Linked DNA regions of Homo sapiens: region 1 is linked to region 2. Evidence: fine-mapped expression QTL. A gene starts in region 2. The other region holds a variant in brackets. All regions are shown on one strand. Distances are between the middles of the regions. Region 1 has its middle 29 kb from the start of COQ2. Region 2 holds the start of COQ2 (coenzyme Q2, polyprenyltransferase).

Evidence for each region. PIP is the estimated chance that this variant, and not a neighbour inherited with it, causes the effect.
Region 1: its variant is fine-mapped to the expression of COQ2 in whole blood (INTERVAL, PIP 0.97).

The regions. Positions count from the first base shown.
Region 1 is chr4:83,253,596-83,258,977 of GRCh38, forward strand. No RefSeq gene overlaps it. Among named protein-coding and RNA genes, the nearest start is that of COQ2, 29 kb to the right of the region's middle. The variant G/A (reference allele first, on the strand shown) is at 2,713.
Region 2 is chr4:83,282,410-83,287,777 of GRCh38, forward strand. It overlaps COQ2 (coenzyme Q2, polyprenyltransferase), which reads right to left and starts at 2,389. Exons shown (of 7, transcript NM_001358921.2): 1 at 2,103-2,389. The coding sequence starts at 2,355. RefSeq lists enhancers at 1,792-2,031, 2,227-2,521 and a silencer at 2,092-2,421.

The DNA of each region.
Region 1 (5,382 bases), 29 kb before region 2:
GCCTCCTTTCCCCATAACTCTCTTTCACCAGGCTTTAGTTTTCTTTATAACAACTTACCACTACATTATATTATTTAAAGTAGCCTATGCACTTATTTACCTACAGAGTTACTCACTTATTAAAATGCAAGTTCTAGGAGGGTAGGGATATGTCTTGTTCACTGAGGTATCCTCAGAACCTAGAATAGTGTATGGCATATAATAGGTACTTGATAAATATTGATTAAGTGAAGGGCTGTAGGTTTCAGAAAAGAGTTGGTTTTTCCAGAACACAACTCCATATGCAGGCATATCTACAGCAATGAAAATTTAGCCCCTAACTTAATTAGGATGGCAACAATATAATTCTGATTATTCTCACCCTAACTTGGTAAAAATGACTTTTGTTCACTTTTTAAAAATTGTGGTATAGTTAGCATACAGTAAAATTCACCTTTTGTGTGTGGGTACAATCCTAAGAGTTTTGGCAAATGCCTATAACTATGTCAAACCATTGCAATCAAGATATAGAACAGTTCCATCATCCTCCGAAATCTCCTCCTTCCCTTTTGTAGTCAGATACTCCTCTGACCTCCAGTCCCTGGCAGCCACTGGTCTGTTTTCTGTACTTACAGTTTTGCTTTTTTCAGATTATCACACAAATGGAATCATGTAGTATATAGTTTTTTGGGTTTGCCTTCCTTCACCTAGCATAATGCATTTGAGATTCATGCATTTTGCTACATATATCAGTTGTCTGTTCCTCTTTATTGTCGTATAGTATTTCATTATATATGTACCGTAGTTTGTTTATTCTTTCACCAGCTGAAGGACATTAAAGCTTTTTTTTTTTCCAATTTGGGATTATAATGAATCAAGCTATTATTAACATTCATGGACAGGTTTTTATGTGAACGTAAGTTTTCTTTCCTCATGGGTAAATACCTAGGAGTGATTTTGCTGGGTCTTATACTCAGTGCATAGTCAATGATAAGAAATTGCCAAACCAGGCCGGGTGCGGTGGCTCATGGCTGTAATCTCAGCACTTTGGGAGGCCGAGGTGGGCAAATCACTTGAGGAGTTTGGGGTGGGTGGTCCCAGCTACTTGGGAGGCTGAGGCAGAAGAATCGCTTGAACCTGGGAGGTTGGGAGGTGGAGGTTGCAGTGAGCTGAGATCACGCCACTGCATTCAAGCCTGGGTGACAGAGCAAGACTCTGACTTAAAAAAAAAAAAAAAAAAAAAGAAATTGCCAAACTGTTTTCCAAAGTGACAAAACCATTTTGCATTTCTACCAGCAATGTATAAGAGTTCCAGTTACTCTACATCTTCACTACCACTTGCTATAATATGGGATGGCTGTGGACTATGGAAACAAGACTAGAAATCTGGCCTTCTTGTTACCCGAATCTGCTTCATTCATCCCCATGTCAAGGCTTATGCACTTGCTGTTCCAACTTCTTGAAAAACGTTCATGTGTGTAACTTCCATTCACATTTTATTTTAAAGCAGAGCCTATCTATGCACACATAAAGACCAGCTAAAAACAGAATGAAGAAAATCAGAAACATGAATACATGAATGAGAAAAAATTATAAAATTGTATCCCTTTCCTTACATTCTTCCATGTTTCAGAGATCTTAACAATTTTCAATTAGTAATTAATTGATCTGTGCTAAAAACTTTTTGATTTGTAACATGTTTTTAAGTGGATTTGTTTAAAATACTCAGTGTGTATTTTGGCCAGGCACGGTGGTTCATGCCTGTAATCCCAGCACTTTGGGAGGCCGAGGAAGGCAGGTTTCCTGAGGTCAGAAGTTCGAGACCAGCCTGGCCAACATGGTGAAACCCTGCCTCTACTAAAAATAAAAAATTAGCCAGGCATGGTTGCATGCGCCTGTAATCCCAGATACTTGGGAGGCTGAGACACGAGAATCGCTTGAACCCTGGAGGCAGAGGTTGCAGTGAGCTGAGATCATGCCACTGCACTCCAGCCTGGGTGACAGTGAGACTCTGTCTCAAAAATAAAATAAAATAAAATAAAATATTTAGTGTGTATTTTTAGCAGTATTTAAAAAATATTGATCAGAGCCATAAACTTCCTGCAGATTCTAAAGTGTTAAAATGTCTTTAACACTTTCCTCTCTTCAAGGAAATGATGTAAACTGAAAGCAATTTATGTTTATGAGGCATTCCTGCAATGGGACATGACCTCTGATCCCAATAATTCTTTCCCAGATGCTGTGTTGACATTTCTACTGCTTAAGTATAAAGCAAGTAAAAGCCATGATTATTTCAGTTTGTTACTATGCCAATGCTGCCTAAGAAAAAAATTACTAACTTGAATTTTCAAGATTGTTGAAGAGTTTTAAACGAGATAAACAAATATAAATCTAGTTAACATTTGCATGCATTACTTTCCATTTCTTTACATGAATTTATACTTCGTTAATGGGTAGGATATCCCTAGATATATATATATATATTTTAAATATTTTTTTTTTTGAGACAGAGTCTTGCTCTGTCCCCTAGGCTGAAATGCAGTGGCGTGATCTTGGCTCACTGCAACCTCTGTCTCCTGGGTTCAAGCGATTCTCCTGCCTCAGCCTCCCAAGTAGCTGGGATTATAGGCACCTGCCATAATGCCAGGCTGTTTTGTATTTTTAGGACACGGGGTTTCACCATGTTGGCCAGGCTGGTCTTGACCTCCTGACCTCAGGTGATCCACCAGCCTC[G/A]GCCTCCCAAAGTGCTGGGATTACAGGCCTGAGCCACTGTGCCTGGCCTTATTTTTTATTTTTTTGACACAGGTCTGAGCCACTGTAGCCAGTGGGATATCCCTTTTAAAATTCATCTATAATTTTTACAAATTCTCCACTTTTTGTCCCCACCTTTCCCCCACCCCTCTAAACTAACACCATTTAAAAAACTCAGGCTTAGAAACTGAATGTTAAAATTGTTCTCCTGAAATAGAATCTGAAAAATCAGCTTCCTCTTTTTTTTTTTTTTTTTGAGATGGAGTCTCACTCTGTCACCCCGGCTGGAGTTCAGTGGCGCCATCTCGGCTCACTGCAAGCTCTGCCTCCCGGGTTCATGCCATTCTCCTGCCTCAGCCTCCCGAGTAGCTGGGACTACAGGAGACTGCCACCACGCCCGGCTAATTTTTGTATTTTTACTAGAGACGGGGTTTCATCATGTTAGCCAGGATGGTCTCGATCTCCTGACCTCGTGATCCGCCCGCCTCAGCCTCCCAAAGTGCTGAGATTACAGGCGTGAGCCACCGTGCCCGGCCTCAGCTTCCTCTTAAGTGAACAGTTCCTCATAGATGGTTTCTGGAAAGATAAATCCTTTGGAGAAGAAAAAGAGTGCTAAAAATGCCTGAAGGCAATGAATCACATACTGTGCTGTTAAAAGCTTTATATACGTGATTCATTCTACAAATATTTTTTAAGAATTTACTATGTGCTAGGCAGTATTCCAGACACTGGAAATAAAGTATGATGATTCAAACAGAAAATATCTGTGCCCTCATGAAGTTAGGTTCTTGTTAGTGAGGACACACAACAAAGAAAATAAGTAAAACAAATTACAGTCATGTGCTACACAGCAATGTTATAGTCAATGATGGACCACATATAGGACAATGGTTCCATAAGATTATATTGTATTTTCACTGTACCTTTTCTGTGTTTCTTTCTTTTTTTTTTTTTTTAGACAAGTTCTCACTCTGTTGCCCAAACTGGAGTGCAGTGGCGCGATCACTGCAGCCTCTACCTCTTGTGTTCAAGTAATCCTCCCACTTCAGCCTCCCAAGTAGCTGGGACTACAGCTATGTGCCACCACACCCGGCTAATTTTTGTATTTTTTGTAGAGATGGGGTTTAGTCATGTTGCCTGGGCTGGTCTTGAACTTCTGGGTTCAAGTGATCCTCCTGCCCTGGCCTCCCAAAGTGGTGGGATTACAGGTGTGAGCCACCACACCTAGCCCTTTTCTGTGTTTAAATATGTTTAGATTCACAAATACTTACCATTGTGTTACAATTACCTACAGCATGAAGTACAGTATGCTACGCAGGTTTGTAGCCTAGGGGCAATAGACTATATACCACATAGCCTAGGTGTGTAGTAGGCTAGACAATCTAGGTTTGTGTACATGAACTCTATAATGTCTGCACAGGGATGAAATTGGCTAATGATGCATTTCTCAGAAAGTATCTCCATCTGTAAGTGACATATGACTGTATATCATATGTTTTAATATGGAGAAAAAGCAGTGAGAGAGAAAAAGAAGTTTGTGTAATGGTGTGTGTTAAGTCTTAGAAAATGAAGACAATGGTTTCACTGAATCGGTGACTTTTGGGCAAATACTGAAGGAGGTGAGGAAGTATCCATGGCAACATCTAGGAAAGCATTCCAGGAACCCCAACGAGGCCAGAAGGCTGCAGCGGCAGAAGGCCTGCAGCAGCACTGGCGAGGGAGGGAGTGGAAGAAGAGCCAGAAGGCAGCAGGAGCCCGCTCACTGAGGGTCCTTCAGCCATGCTAAGGACTTTGGCTTTACACTGGGAGAAATGGGGAGGTATGGGGAGGTTCTGAGTTAGAGGAATGACATACGCTGGCTTTGGTTGTAGCAGGATCGGCCTGGCTGCTATGGTGAGGACACATGAAAGGGGGCAAGGGAGAAGGAGGGAGACCAGTGAGGAGGCTAATGTGTTAATCCAGCGGGGAGAAGATAGGGACTTGGGCCAGGGTGGCAGCTGTGGAGGTGGTAGGAAAAGATTAGATTCTGCATGTATTTTGAAGGTAGAACCAATATGCTTTTCTAATGTCTTGAATATGGAATGTGGGAAAAAGGAGTCATGGTTGATTCCAAGGTTTTGGTCAGAGCAAAAGGAAAAGGAGATGCCATTAATGAGATGGCAAGAAGGGTGGGAGGAGGAGGTTTGAGGCTGAGATCAGGAGTTCAGTTTTGAACATATTGAACTGGAGGTGCCTATTTGGCATTCATGTTGAAATATCAAGTAGGCAGTTCAATATTCAATTCTGCCAAGTGCAAGTTCAAAAGGGAAGTTTAGGCTGGAGGTACACATTTGGGAATAATCAGTATACAGATGACATTTAAAGTCAGGAGTTTAGATGAGATCATTTTCTCATGCAATTCTTAAAACACCAGCATGAGGTAGATATTATTTTAATTCCCATTTTAGATATAAAGAGATAGGCTGGAGAGGTTTAAATAGTTCACTCTAAGTCATTCAGTTAGTAACTGTAGGGACTCCAATGTTCATTCTTATCTCTAAGAGATAGTTTTCAACTTGGGCTCTGTGACAATCCTAAAAGAAAGGAAGGTTCAGTTTAAGGGGACTGTCTCTGATTTCCATCTGTACGTATTTGTTGGGGTTTTATGTACGA
Region 2 (5,368 bases):
AAACCTGGAATTCTACTCCTGTCAATTATTGTTTCTGGCATATGGTAGGGGTTCAAAATACATTTGTTGAGCGAATTCTAACATAGTACTATTTAGTTTTCTGAAAAATCCTGTAATGATCACCTTATTTAGAACCAAACCATGCAGGCTGGTATCTTCCAAACATACACAATCTGTAAGTACAATTTTCTCCATTCCCCACTTCTAAGATAATAATGGCTATTTCTTCAGCACATATTATGACAGGCACTGTTCTAAGCACTTAACATATATTAATGAATTTTCGTGACCTCATAACGTCCATATTATCATTAATAGTATCTTCATTTTACAGATGAAAAACGGATGCCCAGAGAGGTGAAGTAATTTATCCAAGGTCCCTCAGATGAGCAGGGTGGAGGTTCACATCCAAGAGGTTTGGCTCCAAAGTTTTGCTCATAACCCCTTTGTTGCCTTCTGTTACATGGCGGAAGGTCCAGCCACTAAGATAGAAGCCAGAGGTTTAACTGGGGAAATGGGAATAATGGCAGATGTTCATCTATAAGGCTACACTGCCACTCCATGCCACAGACTCCAAGAACAGAATTACAGCCAGGCTTCAGATTGGAACTGGGCTTGGAAATGCATGCCTCTCAACGTGAATGTGGCCCCAAAACTCATGGGGGTCATACACAGCTTCCCAATGATGGCAGGGCTGTACCTATCATTCAGTAGGCTTTTATGCTTTGATAGCTGATTGTTATAACTTAGTGCTCTAATCCCAAATAGGTCGTGCATAAATCTAGAATACCAAAAGCAAGGCCTAATTCGGGTCTTGTACGGGCAAAAGTGGAGTAAATGTACCTAGGCCTTTGACTACATCTCCATACACTGCAATGGCAAATGTCATCATCTAGATTGGCTGGAGTTCATCCTTCACTTCTTCCTCCACGCTATCCAGCTTCTTCAGATATGTTCTTGTCTAGTCTCGTTTCCCATTTTCCACACCCACTTGGTGTTCCAGGTCAGGCTCGTATTCTTAGTGTTCTAACACTCCACCCTTGGGTCTTTGCAAAAGTACTTCCCGCACTAAGATCTCTTCCCTCCTCTGCAAAATCAACTTGTCCTTTGGAGTATAATTTCTTCTCGAAACTTTCCAGCAAGGGATCCACAGTAATTTCTCTTTTTCCTGTAGCACTTGCTTTTGTATCACTCATATTTGATCCATATTTTCCTAGCTCACCAAATAGTCTTTTTCAACTAGACCAGAGTTCCTTGAAAGCAAAGGGTTTCCATAGCTTTTTCTATCTCTATGGCCGGACAACGTAGTAGGAACTTATTAATTCACTTAACACTACTGGAGAAGCCAATCAATCAACAAGCGCATAAGGTTAGTTAGTGGTGAGTGCTATTAAGAAAAATTGCGGATAAAGCGATAGAAAGTGAGGTTGGTAGGTGTTAATTAAGATAGGAAGGTCAGGAAAATCTTTCTGTCGGGGGCGATTGTAAGCTGACAGGCAGTCCGTAAGCGCTGTCCCTGCTGCGTTCAAATGAATTAAATCTTTGCCTTATGGGTGATGCAGGTAAAAGAGCTCCGACTCAGCATCAAAACACAGAGTTCTTCTGGTCTGGCTCTGACGAGGAGCCTTAGTTTCCTCAGCGTCTTAACTGTCTTAAGGATTGTCTTTGTGGGCCTTACAAGATTGCGGGGAGGATCAAACATTCTAATAAATGAAGGAGGGCCACGAGAACGGAACCTTCCGCTTGAGTCACCATTTAAACAAGTGTTTGTGGAATGAGAATTATCTTGCCCGCTTCAGGTGCTCAGGATGCAGACAGACGTGAAACTGGCGGGTCCTTTAGGAGACTGTCCCGACTGCGTGTCCTGAGGTGACTCGCCCCAGGGCGCACGGCAGCCGGCAGCCAAGCTCAAGCTTTCAGGCTCTCATTTCAAAGTGTCCCGAGGTGATTCGCCCCAGGGCGCACGGCACCCGGCAGCCAAGCCCAAGCTTTCAGGTTCTCATTTCCATCACGCCCCGGCCGGCCGCCGCGGACAGCTCCGCGGAGCCGACTCGGAGGCTGCTACTTGCAAATTCCCGGGCTGCCCGCCCGCCCGCACTCACCAATGGGCTTGTCCAACCGCATGAGGCGCAAGTACGGCTGCAGGGGGCGGGGCGCAGAGTCCACCACCGCCGCCGCGGACAAACTGAGCTGGCGCCCGCGCGGCTCGGGACAGGCGGGGGGCTGCAAGTCACCACCGTGGGGCGCGCCTGCCGCACGCGCCAGGGCGAAGGAGCGGCCCCGCCAGCCCGGCAGCCACGCCAGTGCCACAGCCCGCAGGCCCCGCGCGAACCCCGCGGCTCGCGAGCCCAGCATGGCGCTGGTGAGGCCGGGACGAGCTCGGATTGACGTCATTCCCCGGCAGGCATGCGCAGTGGCACCCGCAGGATGCAATCCTAGTCTGCCAGGCTGGGCGGCGGTGTGGGCAGAACCTTTCCTCATCCTTACTTGTGAAATTGGGGTCATCGTGGTCGCTTACTCTAGGGAGGAATACTTAATGAAAAAGGGATTTCTATTGGCAAAAGGCAAAAAAATTACAATAAATTTAGTTGTAATTTTTTACAACTCGATCTTGATTGACTTTGTGGTTCCATTATCGGGCAACACTCAGAACGGGGTCTCTGAGGAAACAAACAAAAAATAGAATCGGGCAACACCTTATTCTGTAAAATAGAATAAGTGTTCCAAAGAGTCGAGCGGAGGAAGTTGGCTTTATAGACAGAAAAAGGGCTGAAGAAAGCAGAAGCAGAGAACAAAAAGCGGATTGGTCACTTCAAATTACTTTCATTGCGAGGCGGGGACAGGGAAACAACAACAGAGAAATAACGGATTGGTTAACATTAGGTTACACCAGGTTAAGGACTAAAACAGGAAACTTAATTGTCATGACGATTGCATTTTGAAATGGCCTGGTTGGAAAATTGGCTGTTGTCTCTCTTTCCTGACTTCTCAGAATGTCAGATACAACTTAGTTTTAGTTTGGTGACTTGGAACTTTAGCATGGGTGACTCTTGATTCTTAGTCTGATCTGTTGGGACCTAGTGCAGGAACTTAGTTCAAAACAATGGCCCCCTATAATTTAACCCTATTATCAGCTTTCTCCATAAAATGAAAAGGATAGTGTTTATTCATATGGAACAGTTGTACCAGGAAAAAAAAAAAAAAGCTTTGAAAAACCTACTGAATCCAAAAGAAGAATTTGCGTACACGTTTAGCCATAAAAAAAAAAAAGGGCACCAAGTGGCCACATACAAGACTGTAAATTAAAATCGCATTCAGGGTTAAGGGATGTTCATTACACAAGTGAAAATTTTAAATTTGACAGCCCTTCAAAGGAGTTTTTGTAATCAGTAGACAACCAGCATGTGTGATGCTAAGAACCTGAAGCTGAAAAGTCTGGTCAGCAGAGTCTTGCTCTGTCATCCAGGCTGGAGACCAGTGGAGGGATCATGGCTCACTGCAGCCTCCACCTCTTGGGCTCAATCGATCCTCCCATCTCAGCATTCTAAATATCTGGGACCACAGACACGAGCCACCGTGGCTGGCTAATTTTTAATTTTTCATAGAGAGGAGGTCTCACTATATTGCCCAGGTTGGTCTTGAACAGCTGGGCTAAAGAGATCCTCCTGCCTCAGATGGTCAGTACTCTTATTCATAAGCAACTCTGTATATCGCTGTGTGCCAGGCACTTTACATGTATCAACTCATTTAACCTCTCACTGAGTAACCCTAGGCAAGTCACTCATCTGGATTTTAATATTCTAGGAAGTTGACTTAGTCTTTAGGCTCCTTTCTGTAAAACATGTACAATGATTCTGTGACTTCTTGCATGGCTCAAGTACAGCAAGTTGGATGCCTGGCCACTTTGGTGCAATGAGGCAGGGGGTACCTAGCCTTTCTCCTGCCTGCAAAGAATAAAGGCCAGCAGGCAATTTAGTAACACTCCTAGTTGTTAGATTGGAGATGATTTAGATCTGACTCAAACCTGAAAAGGGTGTAATATCAGTCATGTATTGCATCCATGACTTTCCAATATAGGTCCAAACTCTTTGTTTAAAAAAATATATTAAGAATTTCAAGATGGCAACAGCAGGACATTAAACCAAGTACAAGGTCCTTCTTAGCGTAGGCCCTGGGTGACTGCACATGTACCCATGATGCTGACCCTGCCCAGAGGTGATTCAATCCTAAGATATTTGGTCCAATTAAAGTGCACAGGAAACTGAGATGGGTACCCACATGTCACTCTGCTAATTTGTAGGACAAGAGAACAGTCACATAGAGTAGAGCCCTAACTTTCAGGAGTCTCCTCTAGACTAATGCCAAGGCACAGTATGCCCTTGGGAAAGCCATTTAACTGCTGCAAACTCTTCAGAAAAGGAAGGGACTAGGCTTTCTCTAAAAGGGCCTGTAAGGCTCCGATTCCTCATTTTGTTTTTTGTTTTTTTTGAAGTGACTTTCTTTTTTTTTAAAATTTTATTATTATTATACTTTAAGTTTTAGGGTACATGTACACAACGCCAATTCCTCATTTTGGATTGGGCAGGAACTCATTTTGTTTTAAACCTATTACCCACAGGAACTGAAATGGTTAATTTTACATGTCAATTTGGCTAGGCCATAGTGCCAAAACATTTGGTCAAAAATTATTCTGGCCAGGCACTGTGGCTCACACCTGTGATCCCAACACTTGAGAGACCCAGGTGAGAGAATTGCTTGAGCCCAGGAACTCAGGACCAGTCTAGGCAACATAGTGAGACCTCATCTCTACTAAAAATTCAAAAATTAGCTGAGAATAATGGCATATGCCTGTGGTCTCAGCTACTTGGGAGGCTGAAGTGGGAGGATTGCTTGAGCCCCCGAGGTTGAGGCTTTGTGAGCCATGGTCATGCCACTGCACTCCAGCCTGGGTGACAGAGTGAGACCCTGTCTCAAAAAAACAAATAATAAACCTCTCATCTTTTTTATGGTGGCCAGAAGAATGAATTACAATGACTGACAAGGCTTTGGAAACAAGACAACCCCTCCCCACATCACAAGGACTGAAAAAGGTAATCAAATAGATTTTGCAGTATGTTCGAAGGTGGTAAGTGGTATGGAGAAAAGAAGAGTAACAGGGAAAAGTAGGGACAGGCTGTATGTATACTTAAATATGGTAATTGGGGTGGTAGGACAGCCCTGATCTCACTTTCTCAAAGACTTGAAGGAGATAAGGGAGTAGCTATGAGAGATCTGAGGGAAGAATATCACTAGATACTCTTAGAGGGATGTCTAGTGCAAGGGCCCTAAGATGGGAGCAAGCTTGAAGTGTTTTCTTAATAAGAGCAAG